Regions from separate parts of the Homo sapiens genome. Here region 1 is linked to region 2. Evidence: fine-mapped expression QTL. A gene starts in region 2. The other region holds a variant in brackets. All regions are shown on one strand. Distances are between the middles of the regions.

The links.
Region 1: its variant is fine-mapped to the expression of ARMH1 in blood mononuclear cells (TOPMed, PIP 0.99).

Annotation. Positions count from the first base shown.
Region 1 is chr1:44,714,286-44,728,987 of GRCh38, forward strand. It overlaps ARMH1 (armadillo like helical domain containing 1), which reads left to right. Exons shown (of 12, transcript NM_001145636.2): 7 at 9,837-9,959; 8 at 10,035-10,107; 9 at 10,254-10,383; 10 at 10,477-10,554; 11 at 10,851-10,932; 12 at 11,006-11,306. The coding sequence ends at 11,118. RNU5F-1 (RNA, U5F small nuclear 1) reads right to left here and starts at 7,617; the gene lies at 7,500-7,617. LOC105378690 (a long non-coding RNA gene) reads right to left here and starts at 9,834. Exons shown (of 5, transcript XR_007066059.1): 1 at 9,750-9,834; 2 at 7,674-7,754. RefSeq lists a silencer at 9,152-9,446. The variant G/A (reference allele first, on the strand shown) is at 6,099.
Region 2 is chr1:44,667,133-44,681,834 of GRCh38, forward strand. It overlaps ARMH1 (armadillo like helical domain containing 1), which reads left to right and starts at 7,582. Exons shown (of 12, transcript NM_001145636.2): 1 at 7,582-7,741. It overlaps TMEM53 (transmembrane protein 53), which reads right to left and starts at 7,349. Exons shown (of 3, transcript NM_024587.4): 1 at 7,199-7,349. The coding sequence starts at 7,259. It overlaps SNORD145 (small nucleolar RNA, C/D box 145), which reads right to left and starts at 3,924; the gene lies at 3,825-3,924. RefSeq lists an enhancer at 6,793-7,294 and silencers at 7,062-7,201, 7,352-7,401, 7,472-7,521.

The DNA of each region.
Region 1 (14,702 bases), 47 kb after region 2:
AAAAAAAGAGGGAGCAGGGGCCAGGCCTGGTGGCTCATGCCTGTAATCTCAGCACTTTGGGAGGCCGAGGCCGGCAGATCACCTGAGGTCGGAAGTTCGAGACCACCCTGACCAACATGGAGAAACCCCTTCTCTACTAAAAATACAAAATTAGCCGGGCGTGGTGGTGCATGCCTGTAATCCCAGCTACTTGGGAGGCTGAGGCAGGAGAATCCCTTGAACCCGGGAGGCGGAGGTTGCGGTGAGCTGAGATCACGCCATTGCACTCCGGCCTGGGCAACAAGAGTGAAACTCCGTCTCAAAAAAAAAAAAAAAGGTAGCAGGGTATACAGAAATCAGAGACAGAATTAATTACAGAATGTCAGGAAGATGGCTGACACTGGTCTCTTCCTTTTTTCTTGAGGCAGGGCCTTGTTCTGTCACCTAGGCTGGAGTGCAGTGGCGCATGCACGGCTCACTGCAGCCTCAACCTCCTGGGCTCAAGTAAGTAGCTGGGACTACAGGCACATGCCACTATGCCTGGCTAATTTTTTTTTTAATTCTTTTTAGAGATGGGATCTCACGATGTTGCCCAACCTGATTTGACTGTCCCCGGCCTTTTTTCTTTTTTTGTTGGGGGGGAAACAGTTTTACTGTTTCCCAGGCTGGAGTTGAGTGGCTTGACAGCTCACTGCAGCCTCAAACTCTTGGGCTCAAGCGATCCTCCCGCCTCAGCCTCTTAAAGTGTTGAGATTGCAGGCATGAGCCACCACGCCTGACTGGTCTGTTTCTTACAGCAGTGCAACATGCTAAACACGTTCATGCTAGTGCCCTGCTGGAAAAGGAAGCAAACCTCGGTAAGGAAGCGCACTTCTCATATGTGTCCAGTAGGTGGCAGGCTTGTCTGGACCTGCAGAGAAAGACCCGGAACCCTGGTTTTGCAAGGCTCTGGGATCAAAGAATTATAAATGATCAGTGCTGTTAGCACCCTGGAAATGGCTGCATGGAATATCCACAGTTCCCAGGTACAATGCCATTTCTATGGCTCCTTCTGCCAAAGGAATACTAAGCCTGCTGCTACAGCCCTGTCTCTTGTTCATTGTGGTTTCCTGGGCAAGTCATTTGTTCTTGGTTTCTTCGTCTATTCAATGAGATGATCAGACCAGTGATCACTGAGGTTTCCTCTAATGCTGATAGGCTGTGGATTCCAAAGTTCCTCTTCGGATTGGAGCAATGAATTTGTCTCCTGCACCATTAAAGAGTTTCCATGGAGTGTGAGTGGCTAGGACCTCACATCTGTTTTTTGTTTTTTTGAGATGGAGTCTCACTCTGTCACCCAGGCTGGAGTGCAGTGGCACAATCTCAGCTCAATGCAACCTCTGCCTCCCGGGTTCAAGCAATTTTCCTACCTCAGCCTCCTGAGTAGCTGGGATTACAGGCGCCCACCATCACACCTGGCTAATTTTTGTATTTTTAGTAAAGACAGGGTTTCACAATGTTGGCCAGGCTGGTCTTCAACTCCTGGCCTCAAGTGATCATCTGCTCGCTTCAGCCTCCCAAAGTGCTGGGATTACAGGCGTGAGCCACTGCACCCAGCCACATCTGTTTCATTTACTGCTGTTTCATCAGCACCAGCACTGCACCTAGCACGTGCTCAATCCCTGTTTGTCAAATGCATGAGCATGGGCCCCACAGAGCATCCTCTCAGCTTCATGGGGCCTGAACTCTCAAACATTCAAACCCTCCTGATGATACCTCCTCCTTGAATACTCTCATCCTCCTTCCCAAACCCATACTCTCCTGGCTTCCTCCTATGGCTCTAGAAACTGCTTCTCGGTCTTTTATACATTCCCATTCCTCTACCAGTCTCCTAGGTGTCAATTTTTTTTTTTCAGCATTCAACTCCAGGTCTTCTTCTCCTTCTTTGCTGTCTATGGCACCTCGTCCGCTCCCACAACTTTAATTACCACGACTTTATGTACCACCTACCACCTTGATGACAGAAACAATAGTCGCTAATCTTTATAGAGTGTTAACTCTATGCTGGATACTGCCCTTGATCTTTACTCATTTACCCCTCACAGCAAGCCAAGGAGGTGGGCACTATTATTTTCCCCATTTTATGGATGGAGGACAGAGTAGTGGAGTGACCTCTCTATAGCTCTAGACCTGTGTGTCCATTTGCCTTCTGAACACCTCCCCTCAGATGTCACCAGTGGACTTCTGATATTCCAGTTCCAAAGCTTTTCTTCTCCAAGGTCCCAATCTCAGTGGAAAGTACCCAGCTGCCCAGGCTAGAAATATTGGTAATTGTCTTGTCTTTTTGCTTCCCACCTTCAACCAACTTCTAACAAGACCAGTCAATTCTAACTCTTCAATATGCAGATGCGTTCCCTCTTCCCCATTCTGTCTCCACTGCTGTAATTCAGGTCTTCATACTGCTCACCTGCACTGGCCTCTACACCAATCTTCATCTGTCCAGTATGGCGCCCACACACAGTTCATTTTCCTAGTCCACCACCAGAGTGGAGGCAGTAGACTTAGTGGTGAAGAATATGGGATTTGGAATCCGAACTATTCTTTTTTCTTTTTTTTTTTTTTTTTGAGACGGAGTCTCACTCTGTAACCTAGGCTGGAGTGCAGTGGCGCGATCTCGGCTCATTGCAACCTCTGCTGCACAGGTAAAAGATATTCTCCTGCCTCAGCCTCCCAAGTAGCTGAGATTACAGGCACCTGCCACTGCGCCCAGCTAATTTTTGTAGTTTTAGTAGAGACGGGGTTTCACCATCTTGGCCAGGCTGGTCGTGAACTCCTGACCTCGTGATCCAACCGCCTTGACCTCCCAAAGTGCTGGGATTACAGGTGTGAGCCACCGCGCCCGGCCTGAAATCAGAACTATTCTTATTAGCTATCTGATCCTGAGCGAGCTACTCAACTTTTTTGAGCCTTCCTTTTCTCTGAAATGAAATGAGAAAAATGCCTGCTGTATCGGGTTGTTGGCACATGCATAGCCCTGCAGAAGCTGGGGCTGGCCTGCCTCCACAGGCTTAGCTCTGATGCATGACCCAGCATCCCTGTTTCCCAGCCAGATCTCCCTTGCCTGGCCACAAATGTGACATGGCACTATCCAACATGGCACTTGCCACATTCTACATTCCAGCCCCTCCCTTCTCCCTATGGTTTTGCCAATTCACGCATCACCGTCTCCAAGGAATCCTTCTCCTGATTCTCCATCCCCTATCATCTCCACTCCATCAACCAACCTGGCTTCCTTTGTGTTCCCATGGCCCTGATAACACTGCCTCATAAATGCCAGTTTCCCTATTGGTATCCCCCACTCAGCTGTGATGTCCCTAAGGCCAGTGATTAGATCTTAGTCCTCTTCATAGCCCTAGCCCAGAGGCCTGGCACAGACAAGATGCTCAATGAGAATTTTGTTAAATAAATGAATGAATCAATGAATAAATCAGTGATTGCTCAGCTTTAGGACATTTGGGTGTTATCAGCACCACAGGCTTTAGGCAAAGCTGCCAAAGATAGTCTTTTGTTGTCCTTTGCTTTCTGAAGGAATTGCCCTTCCTAGTAACTAGCACGATATATAAAGAGTTGTAACTGGCTGTGGTTCCTGTGAAGACATTTGGGCAGAGACCAGTACTTTCACTTTGGGTATAAACAGTGACAGCTGTGAATTTTAAAACTCAGTCAGAAATGATTCAGTGAATAAATCTTCATTTTTCTAAGTAGCTCCAAGTGTTACAAATACATAATTAGCAAAAGATTAAGCATTTAGGTAAAGTGAATAGTCAGAACTAGACATTTGTCTCCTGGAGTATTTGGTTCTACATGGGCAGAAAATGCTATTTGTGGTCAAGAAATTTTCATAAAAATATCTTCACCTGTTCGTTTCTACCCTGAGTGTCCACCAAGTCATGTCTTGCTGCAGGAAGAGCTCTTGGGCACAGGCAGACATTTGCCCAGGATGTCCTGGCATTACGCACTGCCAGCTTGTGCCTGGGAAGAGCCCAGCTACTAATGAGGGACGTGCTGCAGGCGACAAAGCCAAGTGTCATCAGATGCATGAGGGGCCAGACCACTTGGCTCCAAAAAAATGAGCTGCACCAATTCAAGAAGAGGGAAGAAACCAAATGGTAGAACAAGTGAGAAATACTTTGGGGTTTCAGGCAGCAGCCGGTGCAGGCTACGGCTGCCAAGCAGCCAGAGATGTCCGGTCTGCCATTTTGTCCAGATCAGAGAGTGTTTGGGGGAAGCCAGGGAAGCTCAAGTGCTTTGCCCCTTCCCGGGGCTGGTCCCTTTCCCTCCACAATGTTGCTGGGCCTTTGATTCCAAAATAGGACCACATCTGGGCAACCAGAGGCTGCAGAGGGTGGGCAGATGGGATTGCGAGGGCTACCTTAGAAGACTTAGAAGAAAGAGGCAGCCCAGCAGCAGTGGCTGGTTGGTCATAAGAAGCGTTTCTGGGCCGGGCATGGTGGCCCATGCTTGTAATCCCAGCACTTTGGGAGGCCGAGGCAGGCGGATCACCTGAAGTCGGGAGTTCAAGACCAGCCTGACCACCATGGAGAAACCCGTCTCTACTGAAAATACAAAAAATTAGCTGGCCAGTGTGGTGCATGCCTGTAATCCCAGCTACTTGGGAGGCTGAGATAGGAGAATCACTTGAACCTATGAGTCAGAGGTTGCAGTGAGCTAAGATCGCACCATAGTACTCCAGCCTGGGCAACAAGAGTGAAACTGTCTCGGAAAAAAAAAAAAAAAAAAAAAAGGCATTTCTGAATGAAGCCACTATTTCTAAATCAGGAAGGTCCTCAGAGGAAAGGGTCTGCCCCACAAGGTCTGTCCCCCAAAGGGTGAATAAGTACTGGAAGGGGTAGCACAGGATGTCTTTGAAGATCTTCCACCTCCAGGTGATTTTTTAATTCTGTGATTGGGAAAACCAGGATGAGACAAAACTAGCTTTTATAGGGCTTCAGGACCAGGCCCCCTCTAGTGTGCCTCAAGGCTCTGGAGCCTGAGGATGATGGGCAAGAGGCAGAGGAGAGCAGGATCTGGCACAAGGGCAATTTCGAGGAGGCAGGCTGGTTCTCTACTAGTAGCCTTTCCATGCCTTTCCTTAGATTGACACACCAGCCAAAACTCATTCTCTTCTTCCTGCCGAAGGGCACTCTGAGCCCTGGAGTGGAGAAGTCAGCTCCCCATCCCTCCGCCGGTGTTTTCAGCACCCAGGAGAGCTGAGCATGCAGCCTGCAGCACACAGGATGTGGCTGCTCCCTCTGCCTTCCCAGACCACTGCTCTTTTGGAAATCATCAATGATAGTTTTCTGACAAAGTTAGAAATCGCCAGCATGTGTTCCTTTTTAGGCAGCATATGTCTGTTTGGAGTTAAACAAGTAAAGTTTGCAGGAGCTGAAGCAGAGACCTGTTCTGTGTGCTCTGTAAATCCACGCAGTCCACATCTCTGACCATCTCACCAGGTGCCCTGTGTCTCCCACTGTGAGAAGGACCACACTCTTCCCCTTTCTGTTGTGCCTGGGTTGTATGATATGAGCATCCATAGAGTGGTGCCCAGTTCTGGGGTGGCCAAGAAGTATAAGGTCCTGGCTTCAAAGCACTCTCAAAGTTGGCCATGGGGCCAGGTGCAGTGGCTCACGCCTGTAATCCCAACACTTTGGGAGGCCAAGGTGGGTGGATCACCTGAGGACAGGAGTTAGAGACCAGCCTGGCCAACATGGTGAAACCCCGTCTCTACTAAAAATACAAAAAAATTAGGCAGGTGTGGTGGCGGGCGCCTATAATCCTAGCTACTTGGGAGGCTGAGGCAGGAGAATTGCTTGAATCCATGAGGCAGAGGTTGCAGTGAGCCAAGATCGTGCCATTGCACTCCAGCCTGGGCAACAAGAGCAAAACTCTGTCTCAAAAAAAAAAAAAAAAAAAAAAAGTTGGCCATGGGGTATACGGGGAGACAGCTGCCACAGTTCTGGCTCTCCAGCCTGTCCAAGATTCAAGCTAGGAAAGTTCTGTAGCTGTGTGAATGAGGACCACAGTGGCCACTGCAGAGCCTCCTCTGGGGTCATCCACCACCAGGCTGGTGGTTTCTAAGC[G/A]TGGTCCTAGGCTGCCATGACCCAAGCCTCGCCTGTTGGAATGCAGAATCCAATGAGGTCTTTTCAACAAGATGTATGGAGCATGCATTGTGTACATGGAATGGTTTCAGGCTCTAGGTAAACAGAAGTGAGATGTGTCAGATATGTTCATTGGAGTTCACACACTAGTGAGGAGACCATTTAGTGGATAGTACTAGAATTCTATAGCAAGAATTCTATACGGTGCTACGGGTTCAGAGACATAGGACATCTACTCCTGAGTGAAGAGTGAAGGCAGAGGAGAGCAGGCCAGGGGCAGCTTCCTGAAAGTTGATTTCTCAGCTGAGCCTAGAAGAATGAGTAGCAATAGCCAGATAAAGAAGACTTCTCAGGCCGGGCGTGGTGGCTCACACCTGTAATCCCAGCACTTTCGGAGGCCAAGGCAGGTGGATCACTTGAGGTCAGGAGTTCAAGACCAGCCTGGCCAACATAGTGAAACCCTGTCTCTACTAAAAAATACAAAAATTAGCCAGGCGTGGTGGTGCGCACCTGTAATCCCAGCTACTCGGGAGGCTGAGGCAGGAGAATCCCTTGAACCCAGGAGGTGGAAGCTGCAGTGAGCCGAGATCGTACCACTGTACTCCAGCCTGGGTGACAGAGTGAAACTCCATCTCAAAACAAAACAAAACAAAAAAAGGGCAAAAGAAAGAGAAGGCACTGAGATTCTGCTCTCGGTGGGAAGTCTGATACCTCTAGCATACATACTTTAAGTTGGACCCCAGAAGACAGTACCCTCAAGGTCAAGGTGGGCCAAAAGTAAGCCGGCCCTCAGGTGGTCTTGTATGGATTATATAACTACCAGGTGGTCCAGAGAACCTCAAGTGTTGAATGTGGACAAAGGTAGTCCAGAATTGTTTGTGTCCCCAGGTACCTGATAAAAACAAAAGAAAACTATCTCTGGAAGAAAGTATCATCATCCTAACTCTTAAGTTTTTCCTACACTTAATTTTTCAAATATGAGACCAGTCCAAAGTATAAGATAATCATGCACACAAAGTCATCACTATAAATTGGAACTAGCACACTAGAAAGACTCACAAGACTTCAGCCAAATTATTAGATACAGACTGTCAAAAACTAGGTTTTCTTTTAAAAAAAAAAATCTTATAAACATTTAGCTTCCTAAATGTTTACAAGAAGCTAAAAAAACATGACAGTAGGCCGGGCACTACAAAAAGTACACAAAATTAGACAGGCTTATGAGGCTGAGGTGGGAGGATTGCTTGAGCATGGGAGATGGAGGTTGTAGTGAGCCGCGACCACACCACTCCGCTACAACCTGGGTGACATTTGTGGAGCTACCCCAACCTCCCAAAGCATGAAACACCCCACCCACACGTCTCTCTTTAGTAACAGAACATTCAGCCTTGCCTAGGCAAGACTTCAAAAAATTTAACCATAAACTCATAGTTGTTTTTCTCCACGGAAATCTTTAGTAAAAGGCGAAAGATTTATTCGTTATGAAGAGAAACCAGAGATCTGCCTGTTAGCCTTTTGCCTGGCTTCCCAGCTATTGACTGGTCTCCCTCTACTTACGGTGCCTTTGGACCTGCAGACAGAAGCTTTTCTTCCACTGTAGAAAAGTGTCCTAAACATGTTCTCACTGGGTAAAATCTCCTGACAAAGAAAAAAAGTTTAAATATTATTATTCAAACAGATAACCCTGGTAATAATTCTCGTATCTACAATGCATTCTGGGATGCAAATGAGCTGAGCGCCGGAACAAGAGTTCCTCTAAACCCTCTCTCTCTTACCAGTAAATGGAGAGAGGCACTTGACTACTGAGCTGGGGAGAGCACATGGCCAAGTCCTGTCTTCCATGTAGCCACATGTGTTCAGAGTAGCAGTGCCCGGTGCACAGTGACTCACACCTGTAATCCCTGCACTTAAGGAGGCAGAGGTAGGAGGATCGCTTGAGCCCAGGAGTTCAAGACCAGCCTGGACGACAGAGTAAGACCTTGTCTCAGAAAAAAAATAAAATTTAAATTTAAAAAAAAGTCCAGGCGTGGTGGCTCATGCCTGTAATCCCAGCACTTTGGGAGGCCGAGGCAGGAGTTCTCGGTCACTTTGGGAGCACTTTGGGAGGCCTGAGCACTTTGGGAGGCCTGAGGTCAGGAGTTCAAGACCAGCCTTGCCAACATGGTGAAACCCTGTCTCTACTAAATACAAAAATCAGCCGGGCGTGGTGGCAGACGCCTGTAATCCCAGCTTCCCAGGAGGCTGAGGCAGGAGTATCGCTTGAACCCGGGAGGCAGAGGTTGCAGTGAGCGATTGCACTCCAGCCTGAGTGATGACAGTGAAACTCCGTCTCAAAAAAACAAACAAACAAAAATACTAGCATTTACTGGCTGGGCCCACCGGGCCCAGTGGCTCATGCCTGCTATCCCAGCACTTTGGGAGGCCGAGGCGCGTGGATCACGAGGTCAGAAGTTCAAGACCAGCCTGGCCAAGATGGTGAAACCCCATCTCTACTAAAAATACAAAAAAAAAAAAAAAAAAAAATTAGCCGGGTGTGGTGGCGGGCGCCTGTAATCCCAGCCTACTCGGGAGGCTGAGGCAGGAGAATTGCTTGAACCCAGGAGGCGGAGGTTGCAGTGAGCCGAGATCGCGCCACTGCACTCCAGCCTGGGCGACAGAGTGAGGCTCTGTCTCAAAAAAAAAAAAAAGGTAGCATTTATGCTGGTGTGCCATCATCTTAGCATCTCCTTCTCCTCCTGCCCCCTCTAGCTCTGTGGTTCCTTTCTCTTCTTTACAAAAACATTCAATCCTTGCCGATTTTCTCTTGTGCTCCCACAGCCCAATCACTGACTCCTTCCACAGCACCTGTCACCATATCATCGCTGCCTGTTTGTGCACGCTTAAGGAGGGTTGGTCGAATGAATGAATTCAGTCTGTATCCTCAACACCCAATGCCGCGCCTGGCACCATAGGCGTTCACATGCAGCCGTGCCGAAAGACTGAGTGAATGCTGGACTGAATGAATGACTGCCTGTAAAATATCTACAGGAAAGCCCTGCAGGAAATGCCCTCCATAAATTCTAGTCCCCTTCTCCTTCCTAACCAAATCCTCCCCTCCTTCTGCTTCCATCACTTCCTAGCTGTGTAACTTAGGCAAAGTGGTTTACCTCTCTGTGTCTAATTTCGGCAAAGGTAAAATGGGGAAGTGAACCTCATCTGGTTCTGGTGAGCTTCCACGGGTGCTGTATGGAAAGCCTGGCACCCTGCCTGGTGGAGAGGGCTCGATGATGGTTAGAAGGAGAGTTTCTCTAAACTGCCGCCTACCTTCCTTCCCCTTTCTCATTTCCTGCCACAAGTCTCCCACCCACTTTCTCTGTCTCCCTCTCACCCCTTGTCTTTCTCCATCTTGTCTTCCCGTAAAGACCCAGCCCTTCCCTCCTCCATGAAACCTGGATTCCTCCAAGGCGAAGGCCCCCCTCTCTGGGGTCTCAGCCTCCAGCGCTGACATCCTAGGCCGCCTCGACAGGTGGGCTCACCATCCAACCCTTCCTCCTCCCCCTTCAGCCCCCTCCTCCTGCTCTTCAACTGAGGTTCGCCTTCCCAGCTCCCCCACGCCCTGCACAGTGCTGATCAGTAAAAGAGGAGGACACTGACGAGTGGCGACTTGGTTCACGGGGTTCTTTGCTTCCTCGGTGGCGGAGGGGCCTGGGGCCTCTCTCCAGCACCTCTGCCCTTCCGCAGCCATCGAGTTGATCAAAGACCTGGTCGGTTACGATGTGCGCCAGGCGCTGCTCAAGGGCCTCGTGGCGCTGCTGATACCGTCGGTCAAGGAGATCTCCAAACTGCAGGCCAAGATCCTCAGTGGTAAGGACCTGCTCAAATGGGGCTGCCTGGGCCACGGGAGGGCGGTCTCTTGCCTCACGGCTGCCCCCTCCTCAGACCCCTCGGTTCTCCAGCTCACCCCCAGCCTGCCGATGTTTTTGCAGCAGGCCGCGGCCGCCAAGGCCATCGGGTAAGCGGGCAGGGGTTAGTGGGTAGCTGCAGCAAGCCTGGCTTGGCGCTGCCGGCGGGCCCCGGGAGCGCTCCGTGCGCCGGGTGGGCGGGGGTGTGCGCCGGGTGAGCCCCAGGGCGTCGCCCCAGCCCGAACCCCCGGCCCAGGGTCCTGGCGCGCAACGACATGAGCATCGCCGAGGAGCTGCTGTACCTGCGCGTGGTGCGTGGCCTAATGGCCGCCATGGGCAACACGGACCACAGCAACAGCCAGCGGCTGGCCAGCCTCACGCTGGAGGTGCGCGCGGCGGCTGGTTAGGGGGCGGGAAGGGCGGCGGCACCCGCAGCCCCGTCGCCCCCGCAGTCACGCCGCCTCGCCCGCGCGGCGCAGTGCTTCGTGCAGATGTTCCCCTTGGTGGCGGAGCACGTGCGCAAGTGCATGGGGGAGGAACTCTACCAGCTCTTCCTGGTAAGTGCGCCCTTCCTGCCCCGCCGCAATGAGCAGATGGCGGCTCGGACAGTGTGATGCCCCTTCAGACAGTCCCCATCCTGGAGCGCGCCACATGCAGAGTGGACCTGGCCACCAGCTGCAGGAGGGACTGCTCTGGCGTAGGCTCCTCCACCCGCCACCTTCCTGTTCCCTTTCCTGCCCTTTCGGTCAGGCTGCCGACCCGCCCCCCACCTGCAACATCCCTCTGCCAAGCCCAACTCCAAGTCCAGACTGCCCTGGCACCCCAGCCGGGTCCCCCTTGCTCCTGTCCTCAGAGCAACGCTGAGGACTTGTACATGAAAATAGACAGCATTCAGGCGGACATCTTGGCGGCCAACACAGTCAATGTTACCAAAGGTGAGTGTGGGACGAGGGAAGCCGGGCGCAGGCGCCGCCAGCACAGCCTCACGCCCGCCTTTCCTGCCTGCAGCCCTGTGCCTCCATGGCAGCTCCTACAGCATGAACACTCTCTATGGCTCGCGCGATTCGGCTCAGATGGCCTACCTCACACACTTCGAGGAGGATGTAGAATCAAAGGAGTAACAGCCCCTGTGGCAAACCAGGAAGGCCAAGGCTGCGGGGCAGGGAAGCCTGGCAAGAGGAAGGCGCCTGGGGTCAAGCTCAGAGCCACTCCACTTGGCTCCAGGGGGGAGACGGGGATTAGGCATCCCAGAGGGGCAGAGGAAGAGCCGCTGGCTGCGAAGAGTCAATAAACAGCCTTGATACCTGTCTGTTCTTTGTGTGTGTGGAGGGGGAAGGGAGGTCAAGTGAGAGCTATGATGCTAGATTGTGGTGCCTGTGCTCCTCAAGTTAAAAAGCAGGTCCAAGTTTAGGACGGTGGCTTGCACCTGTAATCCTAGCTACTCTGCAGGCTGAAGGAAGAAGATCTCTTGAGCCCAAGAGTTGGAAGCCATCATGGACAACAAAGCAAGACCCCATCACAAAAACAGGCCGGGCACGGTGGCTCACGCCTGTAATCCTGGCAGTTTGGGAGGCTGAGGTGGGCGGATCGCCTGAGGTCAGGAGTTCGAGACCAGCCTGGCCAACAGGGTCAAACTCCGTCTCTACTAAAAAATAAATAAAAAATAAAAAATTAGCCGGGTGTGGTGGCACACACTTGTAATCCCAGCTACTTGGGAGGCTGAGGCAGGAGAATCACTTCAACCCGGGAGGTAGAGGCTGCAGTGAGCCAAGATCACACTACTGCACTCCAGCCTCCTGGGCGACAGAGTGAGACTCATTCTCAAAAAAAAAAAAAAAAAAAAAAAGCAGATCCAGAGGGAAGGGCCACCAACACCCTAGAAGGTTCAAGGGCATAGCCTGAATAGAGGGCCTCACCTCCACTCCCTGATGGCCTATGCACCCTTTCCTCCAGAACACCCTACCTACCTGGTTTTTCTCCGGTTGTTACAGACATTAAAGGGGGTCGTTTGATCCTAATGGGTCCTTTCCTTGCCTGGAACCATTTGCACCAATAGAACAAGGCCAGGTTCCATAAAGCAGAGCAGAAGCTTTATTCATTGATCTAGGAGATAGCAACAGGAGGCAGCCAAATGCCTAGGCAGATAGGGGTGGGTCCCCAGTGAACCCCACCTTCAAACCAAAAACAGCCTGAAGGCTGAAAGACCGACTGCTGGTCCTGGATGAAACCCACAACCCAGAGTGAGAACTTCTGTTTCTGTTTGCCTGCCCTTTCCTGATTGATTCTTTCTGAATAATGCCTTTTAACCAATTGAATGTTGCCTTTTCCAATACTACCTATGGCCTGCCCTTCCCCCATTCTGAGCCCATAGAAGCCCTGGACTCAGCCATATTAGGGGGACTTTCCCACTTTCAGGTAGGGGGACCACCCCCCACAGCCACCGAAAGCTGTTTTATCACTCAGTAAAACCCCACCTTGCTCACTCTTCAATTGCCAGTGCATCCTCATTCTTCTTGGGCTCGTGGGACGAGAACTCGGGAACCAGTGCATAAGCTAGACTCCGCCAACTGGACTGAGCGGGTGGGTCGTCTCCTGCAGCAAGTAAAGGCCATCTCCTGCAGCAGGTAGCCTGGCGAGTGAGACCTGGCAGGGCATTGCTGGCCAGAGGTCCCCAGCTTGCAAAGTGACCAAGAAGAAAACCTTACATCATAGGAATGGAGGAAGGGGAGCTCATGCTCAAAGCACCTTCTCCCAGGGGGAGGGGCCTGGTAAAAAGGGAGTCTCAAGGGAACTTAGGGCAGGTAGGTGGAGACTGGGTTGAGGATTTCTGGAAAAAGGTAGGTTCTTCCAGGAGGGGCTGGAGTGTGCATAGTCTTTTTTTTTTTTTTTTTTTTTTTTTGAGACGGAGTCTCGCTGTGTCACCAGGCTGGAATGCAGTGGCACAATCTCGGCTCACTGCAACCTCAGCCTCCTGAGTAGCTGGGGCTACAGGCATGCACTACCAAACCCAGCTAACTTTTGTATTTTTAGTAGAGATGGGGTTTCACCATCTTAGCCAGGCTGGTCTCGAACTCCTGACCTCATGATCTGCCCGCCTCAGCCTCCCAAAGTGCTGGGATTACAGGCGTGAGCCACCACACCCAGCTTTTTTTTTTTTTTTTTTTTTTAGACAGGGTCTCTGTTGCTCAGGCTGGAGTGCAGGGGTGCAATCTCGACTCACTGCAACCTCTGCTTCCCAGGCTCAAGCAATTCTCATGCCTCAGCCTCCGGAGTAGCTGGGACTACAGATGTGCACCACGACCACATTCAGCTAATATTTTTTTCTTTTTTTGTAGAGATGAGGTCTCACTATGTTGTCCAGGCTGGTCTCCAACTCCTGGGCTCAAGTGATCCTCCTGCCTTGGCCTCCCAAAGTGCTGGGATTGTAGGCATGAGCCACTGTGCCTGGCCTGAGTGTGCATGGTGTTGTTTTTTCTTTTGAAGATTTCTCCTCTTCAATCCAGTCTCATTCAAGTTGGAGTGAGGCAGGGCTCCTGGTCTGGAGTCTCTCTTCTATCTGCTTTTACACCCTGCTGATTTCATCCTGTCTCAGAACTTTAAATATCATTATAGGCCAATGACTCCTACATTTCTATTTCCAGCTAAACATTTCCACCTCATCGTGTCTAAAACTGAACTCCTAATCCCGTGCCACTTTCCCCAATTCAACTCATGGCAACTCATCCTTCCTATAAAACAAAACAAAATAGTGGAGTGCTTTTTAATGTCCGTCTTTAGCACCCATATCTATTATGTCTGTTGGCTCTATCTTCCAAATACATCCAGAATCCAACCATATCTCACTACCTCTATTGTTAATACTCTGGGCTGAGCCACTATCATCTCTCTTCAACGTTATTCTGCTTTTCTCCCTCTTCCTGTTCTCTTTTCTTTTAGTTTCTTTTTTTTTGAGATGAAATGTCACTCTGTCACCCAGGCTGGAGTGCAGTGGTGTGATCTAGGCTCACTGGCACCCACCACCTCCTGGGCTCAAGCAATTCTCCTGCCTCAGCCTCCCGAGTAGCTAGGATTACAGGCTTCTGCCACCACGCCTAGCCAATTTTTGTATTTTTAGTAGAAACAGGAGTTCACCATGTTGGCCAAGCTGGTCTCAAACTCCTGACCTCAAATTATCCACTCACTTCAGCCTCCCAAAGTACTGGGATCACAGGCGTGAACCACTGTGCCCAGTCAATACCTGTTCTCTTTTTAATACGACAGCCAGGGTTATCCTTTTAAGCTTCAGATTCTATCACTGGGCTCAAACCTTGGAGGGCTCCCCATTTCGCTGAATGAAGACCCTAGGTGCTCAGGTTTCCCATCACCTCTCTAAACTCTTCTGCCTCTGTCTGTCCTTCACTCTGCTCCAGACACACTGGACTCCCTTGCTGGTTCTTTTTTTTTTTTTTTTTTTTTTAATTGGCAAAGAGGCCGGGCGCGGTAGCTCACGCCTGTAATCCCAGAACTTTGGGAGGCCAAGGTGGGCAGATCACGAGGTCAAGAGATGGAGACCATCCTGGCTAACACAGTGAAACCCCATCTCTACTAAAAATACAAAAACTTAGCCGGGCGTGGTGGCGGGCACCTGTAGTCCCAGCTACTCAGGAGGCTGAGGTAGGAGAATGGCGTGAACCCGGGAGGCGGAGCTTGCAGTGAGCCGAGATCG
Region 2 (14,702 bases):
GCGCCTGGCCAGAAGTACATTTTTAAAGGGTGGATTTTATGGTATGTGAATTATTTCTCAATAATGTTATTATTTTTAAAAATAATAGTAATACATTAAGTGAAAACACAAGTTATAAAGCAATATCATAACAGAATACCCATATACACACACATACTACACAAACGCACACTTTTTTTGTTGTTTTTTTTTTTTTTGACAGTCTCACTCTGTCGCCCAGGCTGGAGTGTAATGGTGCAATCTCGGCTCACTACAACCTTCGCCTTCCAGGTTCAAGCGATTCTCCTGCCTCAGCCTCCCTAGTTGCTGGGATTACAGGCGCCCACCATCATGCCCGGCTAATTTTTGTGGTTTCAGTAGAAACGGGGTTTCACCATGTTGGCCAGGCTGGTCTCGAACTCCTGACTTCAGGTGATCTGCCCACCTCGGCCTCCCAAAGTGCTGGAATTACAGGCATGAGTCACCGCGCCCAGCCATGTATTTTTTTTAATGCATAGAAAAAAATACATCAAATATTAATAGCAATTATTTATGGGATTAGAGGCAATTTCTTTTTCATGATTTTTTTCCCACTTTCTAAAATCAGTATGTATAACTTCTGCAATGAGAGTTAAAATATTATCTCAAACAACAGGGGAGGTGGTCCAGCAGAGTCAAAAGCAGTTGAGAAGTCAAAGAGGCCAGGGATGCCCAGAAGCCCCTCAGCAATGTGGAAGGATTCTTTTCAACCCTAGCACTTCTCGAGTACCCCACAAAGCAATTTAATCTCACAAGCTCCCTGTCCTCTAGAATTTCTCAACAAATAACACTGACACAGATAGTGCCAGAATTACAAATACGTATATTGTACAACAGTTCAAGCCATAAAACTCAAGCATAAATTAGATTGTGTATACCCCAGGGGCATATGGGGAAGACAAAGGAATGGGCTGATAAGGCATAAGGGTCTGCAGTACAATATGTACTTTTTTATTTGCAAGCCAGAATGAAAATAGAAACCATGTTTTCTTTTTAAAATGCAAAAAATTGGCCAGACTTGGTGGCTCACGCCTGTAATCCCAGCACTTTGGGAGGCCGAGGTGGGCGGATCATGAGGTCAGGAGGTCAAGACCATCCTGGCTAACAGGTGAAACCCCGTCTCTACTAAAAATACAAAAAATTAGCCGAGCGTGGTGGCGGGCGCCTATAGTCCCAGCTACTCCGGAGGCTGAGGCAAGAGAATGGCGTGAACCCAGAGCTGAGATCGCACCACTGCACTCCAGCCTGGGCGACAGAACGATATTCTGTCTTAAAAATAAAATAAAATAAAAATAAAAATAAAATAACATGCAAAAAATTGAAAGAGTCTTAATTTTCTCTACTCCCCAGAAAAACTTTCTAGTGTCTCACAGTTCCTATATTTAAATCAAATTTTTCTTTTCTTCTTTGAGACAAGGTCTTTCTGTGTTGCCCAGGCTGGAGGGCAGTGGTGTAGTCATGGCTCACTGCAGCCTCGAACTCTTGGGCTCAGGTAATCCTCCTACCTCAGCCTCCCAAGTAGCTGGGACTATAGGCAAGCACCACCATGCTCAGCTAATTTTTGTATTATTTTGCAGAGGTAGGGTTTGGCCATGTTGCCCAGGCTGGTCTCAAATTCTTGGGCTCAAGCAATCCACCCCCCTCGGCCTCCCAAAGTGTTGGGATTACAGGCGTGAGCCACTGTACCCGGCCAAATTACTTTATTTTTTATTTACTTTTTAAAAGAAGAGCAGAGCAGAGTAGCATAGTATCTAAGAGTACATACTGTACAAAATCATATCTCGGTTCAAATCTCTGCCTCTGCCACTTAATAACTATGACACAGACCTTAATCAAGTTCTCTAAGCTTCAATTTCCTTATCTGTGAAATGGGGACAATGATACAAAGAATTAAATATGATAATAGCTATAGAGGGCTTATCATGGTGCCTGGCAGAAGGAAAGAGTTCAATAAATTGAAATTATTATTACTTCACAAGTAATGCATACTCACTGTAGAAAAAGTAGAAAATGAATATCTAATAAAATTGGAATCATATTGTTTGTAATCTGCTTTCTTCCGTTTGGCAATATATTGTGAACATTTTTCCCTGTCAGTTTATATATTTCTACACCATTATTTTTAGTGGCTTCAGAGAGGCTATAGAATGTTTCATAATTTATGGTGACCAAATCTCCCATTATTGGATATGATGCTGTTTCCAATTTTTTGCTGTTATAAAAATACTTTAATGGACACCCCTTTCTTTGTGCATGTCCCTAATTGTTTCCTAGAAATGGCATCGTATTCAGGCAGCCCCTCCTAATGGCAACTGAAATCTCGGCATGCACAAGCTCTGGAGTAAGGCTCTTAAGCTGAAATCTGGAATTACTTTGGGCAAGACACTTTACCTCCCCACGAGCATCTGTTCTTCATCTGTAAAACAGGATTAAGGGTTCTCCCTACTTCACAAGGTGGTTGTGAGGATTAATAAAATAATGAAAGGAGCTCCTGGTGGGCCTGGCATGTGGATAGAACATGGTTAACAGTGTTAAGTACCACAGACATTCAGAGAAAAGGAGGCCTGCAAAGAGGCCTGGATCTCAAATCCAGGGTCTAGTACAGCACCAGCACCTGGCATAGAGCAGACACTTAGAAAGCATCCTATTTTTTTTTTTTTTTTTTGAGACGGAGTTTCGCTCTCGTTACCTAGGCTGGAGTGCAATGGCACAATCTCGGCTCACTGCAACCTCCGCCTCCCAGGTTCAAGCGATTCTCCTGCCTCAGCCTCCTGAGTAGCTGAGATTATAGGCATGCGCCACCACACCCGGCTAATTTTGTATTTTTAGTAGAGATGGGGTTTCTCCATATTGGTCAGGCTAGTCTCGAACTCCTGACCTCAGGTGATCCGCCAACCTCGGCCTCCCAAAGTGCTGGGGTTACAGGTGTGACCCACCACGCCCAGCCAGAAAGGGCTCTTATCTAGAGGTGAAAGAAAAGAGATCATGATTCCAAAAATAAATACAACTCCTCTGTATTAAAAAAAAAAAAAAAGACCTTTGGGGTCCTCGTAGACAAGACAAGGATCAAATCCCAAACGACTCTCTTCACCTGGGTCTTTGAGGTCTGTCCATCATGACAGATCTTCAGGTTTTCATCTAATTCTCCACCCACAAAAGCACAGCGCGGCCTCCTGCCAGGCCCCTGTTCCCTCCAGCCACTCACTGTCCCCCTTCAGGGATTTACTTCTGCACTTTCTCCCATCCAAGTTCCAAGCAGGCCTGACACTGCTTAGCTTCTGAGATCTGCATGTTCAAGGTGGTATGGCCATGGACTTGACTTCCACACTTTCTGCTGCTCACCATGGGGGTCTGTCAGCCCTCCTGAAGCTTCAGGTCCAGCTTGGGCTGCTCTACTCTAGGAAGCCTCTCCCACCACAGGGCCCACCATGGTGGTCCAGACCCTTCAGCACTGTCTCCTGGGTGTCCGAGACAACTTCCTGAGGGTTAAAATGATGTCTATATTTCTTTGACCTCAGCCAGTGATGAGCAAAAAAGGCATGCGGTAAAACCTGGGGAGCAAAAACCCCCTCACTTCCCCTCTCTGTGATCCCCTTAAGACCTTCTGTTTACTTTAAGAGCAAAATGTTTGTCCCATGACCAGGCCCCAGACTCATTAATTCTATGAATGAATTTTTCTTTATGTTTACTGAACATGAGAGCCACACGGTGCCTTTAAGAAGGTTGCTGGCCTATGAGCAAGTCACAGAGGGGATCTAGGTGGGACTTGGCTGACCATTCTCTGGATGGGAGGAGGGGTGGCACGGCCTGGGCCTGGGATGTCAGAGCAGCTCTGGCTTGGGCCTACAGTGCTGCCAAGTGATTCCATTCAGCTCACTTGGTACATCATCCCTCCCAGGCCCTGGTGACAGTGAGTGAAGCCATCAAAAACACGACAACAGGAAAATATAGTGCTTATGGGAGCCCCAGGAGAGACCCTTCCCAAATGAAATGAAGTAAGAGAGGGTATTGAGAGACTGAGGGGATCACTGGCCTGGGAAAAAGAGAGGGAGGAGGGAAGACAGATTCTGGGTCAAACGACCGGCTTTAGCAAAGGCCTGGGCAGACGACCATCGGTGTGGGCAGCCAATAGGTACTGGCTGGTAGGATTCCCAGCAGAAGGATGTTGGGCTGCCAAGCCTGACCTACAAGGCCCAGGGCTCTGAATGACCCCAGATCTGCAGCTGCCTTCCAGCTAGCTAATGTGCCAGCATCAGCTTCTCTGTCAGCTCACAGCAGTGATGGGCTCTGTGGTTTCGATTTTTCAAATACAGGGGAAAAGTAATTTCAGGCCAGGTGCAGTGGCTCATACCTGTAATCGCAGCACTTTGGGAGGCTGCGATAGGAGGACTGCTTGAGCCCAGAAGTTTCAAACCAGTCTGGGCAATACAGTAAGACTCTGTCTCCATATAAGAAAATGAAAATTTTTTAAACTGAAAAAAAAAAGTGTTTTTAAAGGCTGGGCACAGTGGCTCACGCCTGTAATCCCAGCACTTTGGGAGGCTGAGGCGGGTGGATCACCTGAGGTCAGGAGTTCAAGACCAGCCTAACCAATATGGTGAAACCTTGTCTCTACTAAAACTACAAAAATTAGCCAGGCATGGTGGCGGGTGCCTGTAGTCCCAGCTACTTGGGAGGCTGAAACAGGAGAATTGCTTGAAGCCAGGAGGCGGAGGTTGCAGTGAACTGAGATCGTGCCACTGCACTCCAGCCTGGGCGACAGAGTTAGACTCCACCTCAAAAAAAAAAGTTTTTAAAAAGTAATTTCAGAAACTAAATATGAATGTCCTATACACTTCTCCACCATTAAACAGTAATTGCAAAAGACAGACAATCTCTGGGGCTCCAAAAGACTGTCACTCTATCAGGCCATGTTGGCCTGGAGGGAAGCTCTGCAGATAGGAAGCAAATGGATTCAGGGGACCACAGCGTCGTGATCTCCTTCTGAGGGGTTTGACAACCTCTAGCTCTCCTCTGGAGCATGGACTGTGAGAGGGAAGGGCAATGAATTAAAGCCAGTCAGGAGCAGCAATAAGGAGGAGAAACAACTGAAAGCCGTGGAGGTGTTTCCCTTGGAGGAAATGTGAAGGCACGAAGCTGTCCTCTTGAACAGAGGAAGAGAGATTCCTTGCTCTGTATCGTTCCCACCACAATGCTCTAGCCCTGCAGTTAGCACACCATTTTGAAACCACCTGCTTATAAATTCACTCCCCTCCCCAAAACCTCAGCTCCTTGGGCGTGTGAGTCACTTCTGAGTGGCCAACAACGATCCCACAGCCAGGACACAGCAAATACTGAACTGAGAGCGGAAATTACAGGAAGGCCTATTGTGGCTCAAGAAAGGGAAGTGCTTTCTAACAATCCCAGCTGCCTCCAACAGGCTAGAATGTTTGGGCAGAAGCATCGCCCCAGGGAAGGGTCTGCTAGCAATGGAATGCACTCATGCCAACAGAGGGAGGCAGGACAAAACAGTCTCTGAGATTTCTTCCAATTCTAAGACCCAGCCTCCTGGAGCAGCAAAGGGAGCCATGGGATCCGCCACTGCACTCCGGCCTGGGCGACAGGGGAGACTCCATCTCTTAAAAAAAAAAAAAGAAAGGGGGGCTGAGGGGGAACCACAGGGGAGCAATGCAATGGCAGCACCTGCACTGTGCCAGGGACACACATCCAAACGCTACCTCGTAACCCTCGCAATCCCACGAGGAGGTAGGCACTAGTACTCTTCCCATTTCACAGTGGAGGAATCTCAGGCTCAGGGAGGTTCAATAGCTTGCCAAAGACATATAACTTGTAAGACATGGAGCTGAAATGTGAACCAGGACCACGAGGCTGCCCTCCTGGCCGTGCAGAAGGCAGCTCCAACCCTTTGCAGCCGAAGACTCTCCAAAGGAAATAATATTAACTGACTTCATGGCTTGCTGACGCCAAAACGTGTCCAAAGTATTTTTACATCTATAAACCCAAAAGCGCTAAGCCAGCAGATCCAGTTCTAGGGAAAAACAGCTGGTCTGGGGCCATCTGTTCTGCGGGAGTCTAAGGGCTGCCCTCTCCTAGACTCCAACCAAAGAACATGAGATGCTACGGGAGGGATCTGGGAAGGCTCTCCTTAAGGAGGTAAGTTTTATGGAGAGCAGAGTATAAGATCAAACCTTTGCATTAGAAAGATCACTGTGGTAGCAGTTTAAGAGGCTGGGCTGCAGGCAGTGAGACAGGAGGCGTGAAGGCGATGCTGGACTAATGCAAGTGAGGGACACGCTGGCCTCAGGCTGATCATACTTCAAGGCCCTTCTGCCAGAATTCCCAGAGAGACCAAACTTTCCACTCTCTGGACCCCGATCTACTCACACTGTCATGGATGCGGGCCTGCTGTCAATCCTAATTTTGTGGAGAATCCTACATGTCTTTCTTTAATGTAAGGAGAGAAACAATGCTGATCGTAAATGCCAATTACTGAACTCACTCCATGCCAGGCCCTTTACACAATCTCCAGATGGCCCCAACAGCCCTATGAGGAAGGTTACTATCCTTATCCCGGTTTTGCAGAGGAGGAAACTGAAGTTCAGAGAAGGTAGCTTACCAAAGGTAATCCAGCTCCTAAAGGAAGGAGTCAGGATTTCAGTCGAGTTCTACCCGACGGCAGAGACTGCACTGTTAACCACTGCCGAGAAGAGTGGAGAGGGACGGCTAAGGGTTCTGAGTCCCGGGCTTCTGCGAGGATCGGTGACCCCGCGAGCCTCCCCCTCCACGCCTTCGGGAAAATAATAAGTGATAGGCTAGATGTGGGAAGCCCAATCCCAAACAAAGGAATCAGGAGGGATCCAGCTTTCGGCAGCCTTCAGCTATGAGAAGTGATTAAAGGGCATGGACCTGAGCACCCCGGACAGGAAAGACAGAAAAAGAGGTCCCAAGCGAGCAGCTGACTCGGGCAGAGGCGGGGCTCGCCAGGGAGGAACACTCTGGGGCGGGACTTACGAGGGGCGGGGCTCTCTGAGCCTCTCTAAGTCTAGGACCTGCCAGACCCTATGAGGGGGCGGCCCGAGGGAGGGCGGGGCCGCATGAGGGGCGGGGCTACAGCTGCGCTCGCAACCCACAGGTTCATGAGGTCACCTCCCCGCGCCTGGACCCAACCCTCATTCCATACTCTGGCTCCAGCAGGGCTGATCCGGGATCTCGATGGTGTAGTCCAGCTCTGCCGAGGCCATGGTGAAGGCGCCGGCCCAGAGCACGGGTCTCCAGCCGGAACTCCCGCTTGCGCACCCGTGCCTCACCCGGGCGCCTCCTGGGCGCCGCCCAATCACCACACACCTCCCCCAACACGGCCCAATCCCTGCGCCGCGCTCTGTGACCTCCCGCCTTAGCAACCACCGAGTCTCTTCCAGAGCCTCTCGCCTCACCCCACTAGCTCGGCCCTAGCAACCATGCCCCGCCCCTATTACTGACCCGCAGCCATTGGCTAATTCGCTTGATCTGGATCAGGTATTGGTCAGCCGGGGCGCCGGTCAGGAAGAGTCCCCACCCTCTCATGTAGGTGAGAGGCGGCTGAAGAGTTGCTGTATTCTGGGAATGGGCAGGGTCACTCGTCCGAACAGAGTCCTATCCTACGCGGCGGAAGAGTGTGCCCTTTGACTTGCATCGTCTACCTACCTCTGCCATCCTCTACCAGCCGCAACTGCGAGGGCTGGAGGTATAAAACCGTACAAAACGGCCTAGGGGGCGCGTGCCGACCCAACCTCCACCCAGTGGGGTTGAGGCATATTCTGGATGGATGGATGGATGGATGGATGGATGGGTGGATGGGAAGCAGTCTTCAGTTGATGACTTTAGAGAATGCCCTGTTGATAGGGCCCACCGAGGAGCTGGGAGTGCAACTTTCTTGCATTTATCTATATTTACATACTATGTGCCAGCATATTTACATACTATGTGCCAGAGACTGGGTGGGCTAAATAAGGTTCCTTAGGCCCTAGTGAGAATCAAGCTTTTGGCCCTCCCTCTCCCATGTCTTAACGGGAGAGGGAGAGAAACCATGCATGAAGCAACTCTGATTCTGCGTGTGAGATAAATACTACAGAAGAGTAAGGATTTGAGGAGCTCAGAATCAGAGAAGGGGCATTTATGGCAGTGGGGTTGGCTCTTGAGCTGGGCCTTGAAAGACTTTTAGAGATAGGGAGGGGGAAAGACTCTTTGCATGCCAGGCGCGGTGGCTCAAACTCGTAATCCCAGCACTTTGGAAGGCCAAGACGGGAGAATGGCTTGAAGGAGTTCAAGACCAGCCTGGGCAACATAGTGAGACCTTCATCTCTACAAAATTAAAATTTTAAAAATTAGCCAGGCATGGTAGCGCATGCCTGAAGTCCCAGCTACTTGGAAAGCTGAGGTGGGAGGATCACTTGAGTCAGGAGGTCAAAGCTGCAGTAAGCCATGATTGTGCCACTGCACTCCAGCCTGGGTGACAGAGTGAGACCCTGTCTCAAAAAACAAAACAAAGAGCCCAGTGTGGTGTCTCACCCCTGTAATCCCAGCACTTTGGGAGGCTGAGGCGGGCGTATCACTTCAGGTCAGGAGTTCGAGACCAGCCTGGCCAACATGGCGAAACCCCATCTCTACTAAAAATACAAAAATTAGCCGGGCATGGTGGTGCACACCTGTAATCCCAGCTACTTGGGAGGCTGAGGCAGGAGAATGGCTTGAACCTGGGAGGTAGAGGTGGCAGTGAGCCGAGATTGCTCCACTGCACTCCAGCCTGGGTGACAGAGCGCGACTCTGTCTCAAAAAAAAAGAAACATTAGTGCAGGAACTGGATTGAGGATTGGGAGAAGGAGGGAGACCAGTTAGGAGGTTGTTTCAGTAGTGGGGAAGGATTATGGTGGCACAAAGCATGGAGTGGCAGCTGAAATGGAAAGGGCAGGATGAATTCCTTAGACACTTATAGCTAGAAAAAAATGGACTTGGTTACTAATTGGGTGTGGGGGAAGTAAGGGAAATGAAGGATGACTTCTAGATTCCTGGTTTGGGCAAACAGGAAGGAGAGGAAGCAGGGGTTTTTAGGAGAGGGTCAGTTCTGGGCACGGTGAGCTTGGGGTGCCAATGGAACATCCAAGTGGAGGTATCCAGAAGGCCATTGGATATGCCTAACTGGAGTTCGCCAGATAAGTCTAACTGGAAGTTGCAGTGTGGGAGTCTATGGGGCCTTATAGATGCCAGCCACACCAATAGATTTGTTGAGCTTGCCCAGGGAGTAAGTGTAGAGTCAGAAGAGACCTAGGACAGAGCCCTGAGAAACACCCAAGTTTGAGGGTCTGGCAAAGGAGGACGAACCTGCAAAGGTAATCAAGATGAAGTGTCCAAAATGGTAAGAAGATCAGTAGTAGTATGTGGTGTTTCAGAAGCCAAGGAAGGAAAGTGTTGAAGGCTTATGACTAATCAAGTAAAATAAGGCCTGAAAGAATCCACTGGATTTAGAAACAAGGAAGTTGTTGGTGACCTTTACAAGTGCAGTTTCAGTGGAGTGATGGGAGCAGAGGTCAAATTACAGTGGTTTGAGAAGCAGATGGGATTGAGGAAGTGAAGATTCATGTAAGATACATTTTCAGAAAGCTTGGCTATTTAGGAGAAGAAAAAAGAAGGCAATATCCAGCAGGAAACACAGGTTTTTATTCGGATGGAAGAAATGTTGATGTGGATCCAGCAAAGGGGAAAAAGATAAAACTATAAGGGAAAGAAGATAACTGAGAATGGTGCCCTTGAAAAAAAGACTTCACCAAAGTGTTGGTGAAGAAATTCACTTAGAAGGGTGGAGGAACATTTGTTTTGTGGCAGAAGGGAAGCATTACGTTGAGGTTAATTGGTGGGTTTGGTGACAGGAAGCTGAGGGAATTCTTCGATGGTTTCCATTTTCTCTGTCAAATAAGAACATTATATCAGCCAGTGAGAGTGGGATTGGAGATGGTGTGCGAGATTGAAAAGAGCAGAGAAAGATTAAAATAGCAGCACTGGAGAGTGGCAGTGAGATGACTAAGGTAGCAAACAGATTTCTGGGCAGTTATCATGGCCCTGTCGAGGTTAGTGACCATTAATTTTCGGAAGCAGCAGTCTGCAAGGTTGTGTAATATGCATTTTTCCCTCAACAACATTCAGCCACCTAGTGGTGGGTACACAGAGGTTAGTTTAATTGATCTAGGTTTGGGTTTTACCAGGCGGATACAATGGAAGGACAAAGGACAAGGAAGTTGAAGATTGTGGCAAAACAGTGATTGAAATGAAGGGCCTTAGTATCTAAACTGGATAGGAGAGTGAAAAAAAATGTATGGACTAGAGGTCCCAGTGAAGTCAGAGAATCCACATCTGAGATCATTGAATGAGGGAGTTGTGATCAGAAAGTGGAAGAATGAAGTTTGAGTAGTTTCCGGTGATGACAAGGTCCACTGTGTGGCCGTGGGAGTCAGTGACCAAAGTGGAGTACAGGAGACAGTCAGGATGCTGATGTGGCCACTGAACTCCCCCTGGATGATAGAAAGACTTGAGGGGAGGGAAGGGAAGAGGATGCCCGTGAGCTAGGTACCAGTCTCTGATGGGCAGAGCAGGTTTTTCTGGAGTCTCTAGGTGACAGCATGAGGAGGGGCAAAGGCTGAGACAGCTAAATGGTATGACCCTTGAAGTAGTAAGGGCTTTTACAAGAAGGAGGTGGAATAAGGAACTGAGTTGGGCTTTGGCAAGGAGACATGAGGCCCCCTCCTAAACCTGAAATCCTGGGGGTGTAAGAATCTAAACAGATTCTACCAGGAGGGCCATGCAGAAGGGGAGCCCTGGGGTAGAGCCAGCTTTGGATGCAGGCTGGAGGTGGGCAGGTGACTGGAGAGGCTGAGGATGGAGGAGACTTAGCTGATTGGGAAGAAGGGTTTTCAAGAGCAGAGTAAAAAGGTTGGGAAGGGAAGGAAGGCTGGGAAATGGGTCGAGGAAGATGAAGCATAGAGCAGTGAAGGGGCAAGGAGAGTGTGGTTGACCTCGCCAGTTACATGTTGTGGAGAGAGGATGAGGGCAGGTCTGTGGAGCAGTGTTGGAGGCAGAAGTGAGTCTGGGGAGAAGAAGAGTGGGGGCTGTGGGTAGGAATGAGGGCAAGTGGGGAGAAGATGAAGGCAGAGGATTTCATAGGAAGGAGATGGGGGAAAGGAGTTCTTGTGGGGAGAGGATGGAGAAAATGGACAGATGTGAGGAAAAGGTGGGGGCAGATGGAGTCTACCAGGAAGTGATGAGTAGCAGGGGTAGGGGTATCTGCCAGGGTATGACTGGGGAGCAGAAGAGGGTCCATGAGAAGGAAGTGACAAATTGGAGTGCATATGCCCCTGGGAGAGAAATAAGGACACCTTGTTTGGAAGTTTGAGGAGATAATGTTTCTCTCTCCCTATCTCTGAATGGAGAACTGAGAGTTAGGAGTCAGGGACGGGAGCCCAAGGAGAAGGCCTGTCTCATTCTACATGTGAAACCTACAGGAATAGGAGGCAGTGACTTGCTTGTTGTCTCCGAGGCCATGTGGGGACAGTGAGCCAGGCTGGCAACCCATGCCTTGGAGGCCTCTTTGCTTTCAGAAGGTGTCTTTTGATTTGCCGGGGGGGTGGGGAAGCCCTCTGGGAAATTTTATTTAGAAACAAGACCTATTGACCTCTTGATTTTTAATACCTCCCCTTCGCTTGTTGCCAAGGACCTTTGGCTTAGCATGAGAGCTGAGGCTTTTGAGATTGTGTGATTTTAGTTTCCCTGCATGAAGAAGAACCATTTGGCCACTATAGAAATGATTTATGGATGAGTCCAGATTTATTAATCACCTCTGAAGATGGAGAGGAAATTAAAAACAAAGAGTCCACTCTGGGCTGAAGACAAAGTAGGTCTGTTATCCTTGCAGAAGACTTTGCCAAGGTTAGAAGGCCACAAACAAACCAATTTGGACCGAGGTTCTTAATCTGGATTTTTAATTTCGCGTGCTTGATTTTTTGCACCGTTTTCTCTCTGAGGTAAAATAATGACTATTTTAATTGGCTGCCACTTACAGAGAGATCCCAATAAGCATGATGGCATACATATATTTTTCTCTGGCATTCCATGTGTGCTCCAGTTCTTATGATCAAGCTGGTGAAGCTGACTTTTACTGCATGCTGCATGCCATGATCAGTTGACTATAAATTAAATCTTCTTTTCCAAAAGCCATTTTCCATTAGTGCTAATTTGTTTGCTTCTCATTTCCACTGATCATTAGAGTCTCTGGTTGTGAGCACCAAATTGGAAATAATTTCTGTGACATTTCAAAAAAAATTTCTCCCCTTCTTGAATGCCATTTGGCTGCAGCTAAATAACATTATGGTTTACAGAAGAACAGTTCACTCCAATTACAATTTAACTGACCGTTCATGGCACTGAATCCCTGTCCTTAGTGTCCAAAGATGACACCGCTGCTGACATTGCTGTTTCCTGTCATAGCTGTAAAACACCTCGTAGACTTTGCACTGGCCTTCTTGGATGGAGATTCTGCCACTCCGCACATGGCAGCTTTGGGAAGTTGGTAGTTTTATGGACCTGCATATCATGGACATTCAGATATAATCATCTCAACAGGAGCTGGGTGATTTCTTCACACATTCACTCAGCGAGCATTTATTCAACATCTGTTTTGTGCCAGGCATTATGCCAGGTCCTAGGGACACAGAGACAGGGAAGACCAACCCCTGCCCTTGAGGAACTCACACTCTAGTGGGAAGGATGGGTAAGTTTTAAAGCATATTAGAGGAAGAGGTGGCATGGATGGGACCAGAGCTGCAAACCCCTAGTTGTCCCAGGGAGTTTGCCAAAGGGCAAAAAGGAACCTGGCCATTCCTGATGGCAGAGCAACACTGAGATGCAGAGGGCCCTGGAAGGGCCTGGGGAGTTGAGAGTGCAAGGTTGTTGTAATGTGGAAGTGACTAGAGATGAAGTTAGATTGGGGCCAAGTTTGTTTGTTTGTTTGTTTGTTTGTTTGTTGTTTTGAGACACTCTGTCACCCAGGCTGGAGTTCAGTGGCACGGTCTTGGCTCACTGCAGCCTCAGCCTCCCAGGTTCAAGTGATTCTCCCGCCTCAGCCTCCCGAGTAGCTGGGACTACAGGCGCGTGCCACCACACCCAGCTAATTTTTGTATTTTTAGTAGAGACGGGATTTCACTATGTTGGCCAGGCTAGTCTCGAACTCCTGACCTCATGATCCACCGCTTCAGCTTCCCAAAGTGCTGGGATTATTGGCGTAAGCCACTGCGCCCAGCTGGGGCCAAGTTTTGAAGGGCCTTGAGTGCCATATTGGGTTTAGACTTTATCCAGTAGGCCACAGTGAGCTAATGGAGAAATCTGGGGGTGAAGCAAGTAGGAAGGGTAGAAGCTTACGGAAAAAGTAGTTAGGAGATGGCTTTGTTTGTATATTTATTTGGGTTGGTGGGGATTGAGCAAGTGTTTAAGAGGAGTCAGGGAAGATGGGAAGATTGAAGACAGGAGTAGAACCTAGTGCCCACGGAGAGGGTGGGTGCTGATACGATGATCGTAAGAGGAGAGGGTTGCGCTTGATGGCCCCTATATTCTCTGTGAAGTTGGAAGCAAAGTTATCCAGGCATCCTCCTTGATTCCTCCCCGTCTTTTATCTTCCACAGCCAGTCAGTCACCAGGCCCTGTTTCTTCAAATGGTGTGACATTTCTACTTTTCTCCAACCCTAATATCATCAGCGTCTTTGTCAAGGCCGTAGGAATGACTTCCTAACTGGTGCCCCCACCTCCAATTTGCCCCCTTCCGATCCCCTTTTTTTTTTTTTTTTGAGACGGAGTCTCGCTCTGTCACCCAGGCTGGAGTGTAGTGGCGTGATCTCGGCTCACTGCAAGCTCCACCTCCCGGGTTCACGCCATTCTCCTGCCTCAGCCTCCCGAGTAGCTGGGACTGCAGGCGTCCACCACCATGCCCGGCTAACTTTTTGTATTTTTTAGTAGAGAGGGGGTTTCACCGTGTTAGCCAGGATGGTCTCGATCTCCTGACCTCGTGATCTGTCTGCCTCAGCCTCCCAAAGTGCTGGGATTACAAGCGTGAGCCACTGCGCCCGGCCGTGAGGCTCCATTTCTAAAAAATTTTTTTAAGTTAGCCAGGCATGGTGGTGCACACCCATAGTCCTAGCTACTCAGGAGGCTGAGGCAGGAGGATCGCTTGAGCCCGGGAGTTCAAGACTGCATTGAGCTATGACGGTGCTGTGCACTCCAGCCTGAGTGACAAGAGTGAGCCCCTATCTCGAATAAATACACTGATAAATAAATAATAATAAAGATAGGTAAAAATCAAGGCTAACAAGAAAAATGCCTAAATAGAGGGGTTAAGGATACAAGGGAGGCAGGAGTAATGAGTAGAATGAGGGCCCTGAGAAGGCGGGGTGGATGGAGGCAGAGCTCTGGTAGATGGCTAGAGAAGGAGAGGAGAAGGATGGATGTGGATAGAGATGAAGAAAGAAGAGGAGTATGACGACATTCTTACCTAATGGCCTATAACTTTCTTTGTTAAACCCAAAAGTAGGCCTTCTGAGAATAGATGGAAGAGGTGGGAAGGTAAGGAGCTTGGAATTGTAGACTTCATAGGTGGGATGGTGCTAGCCAGT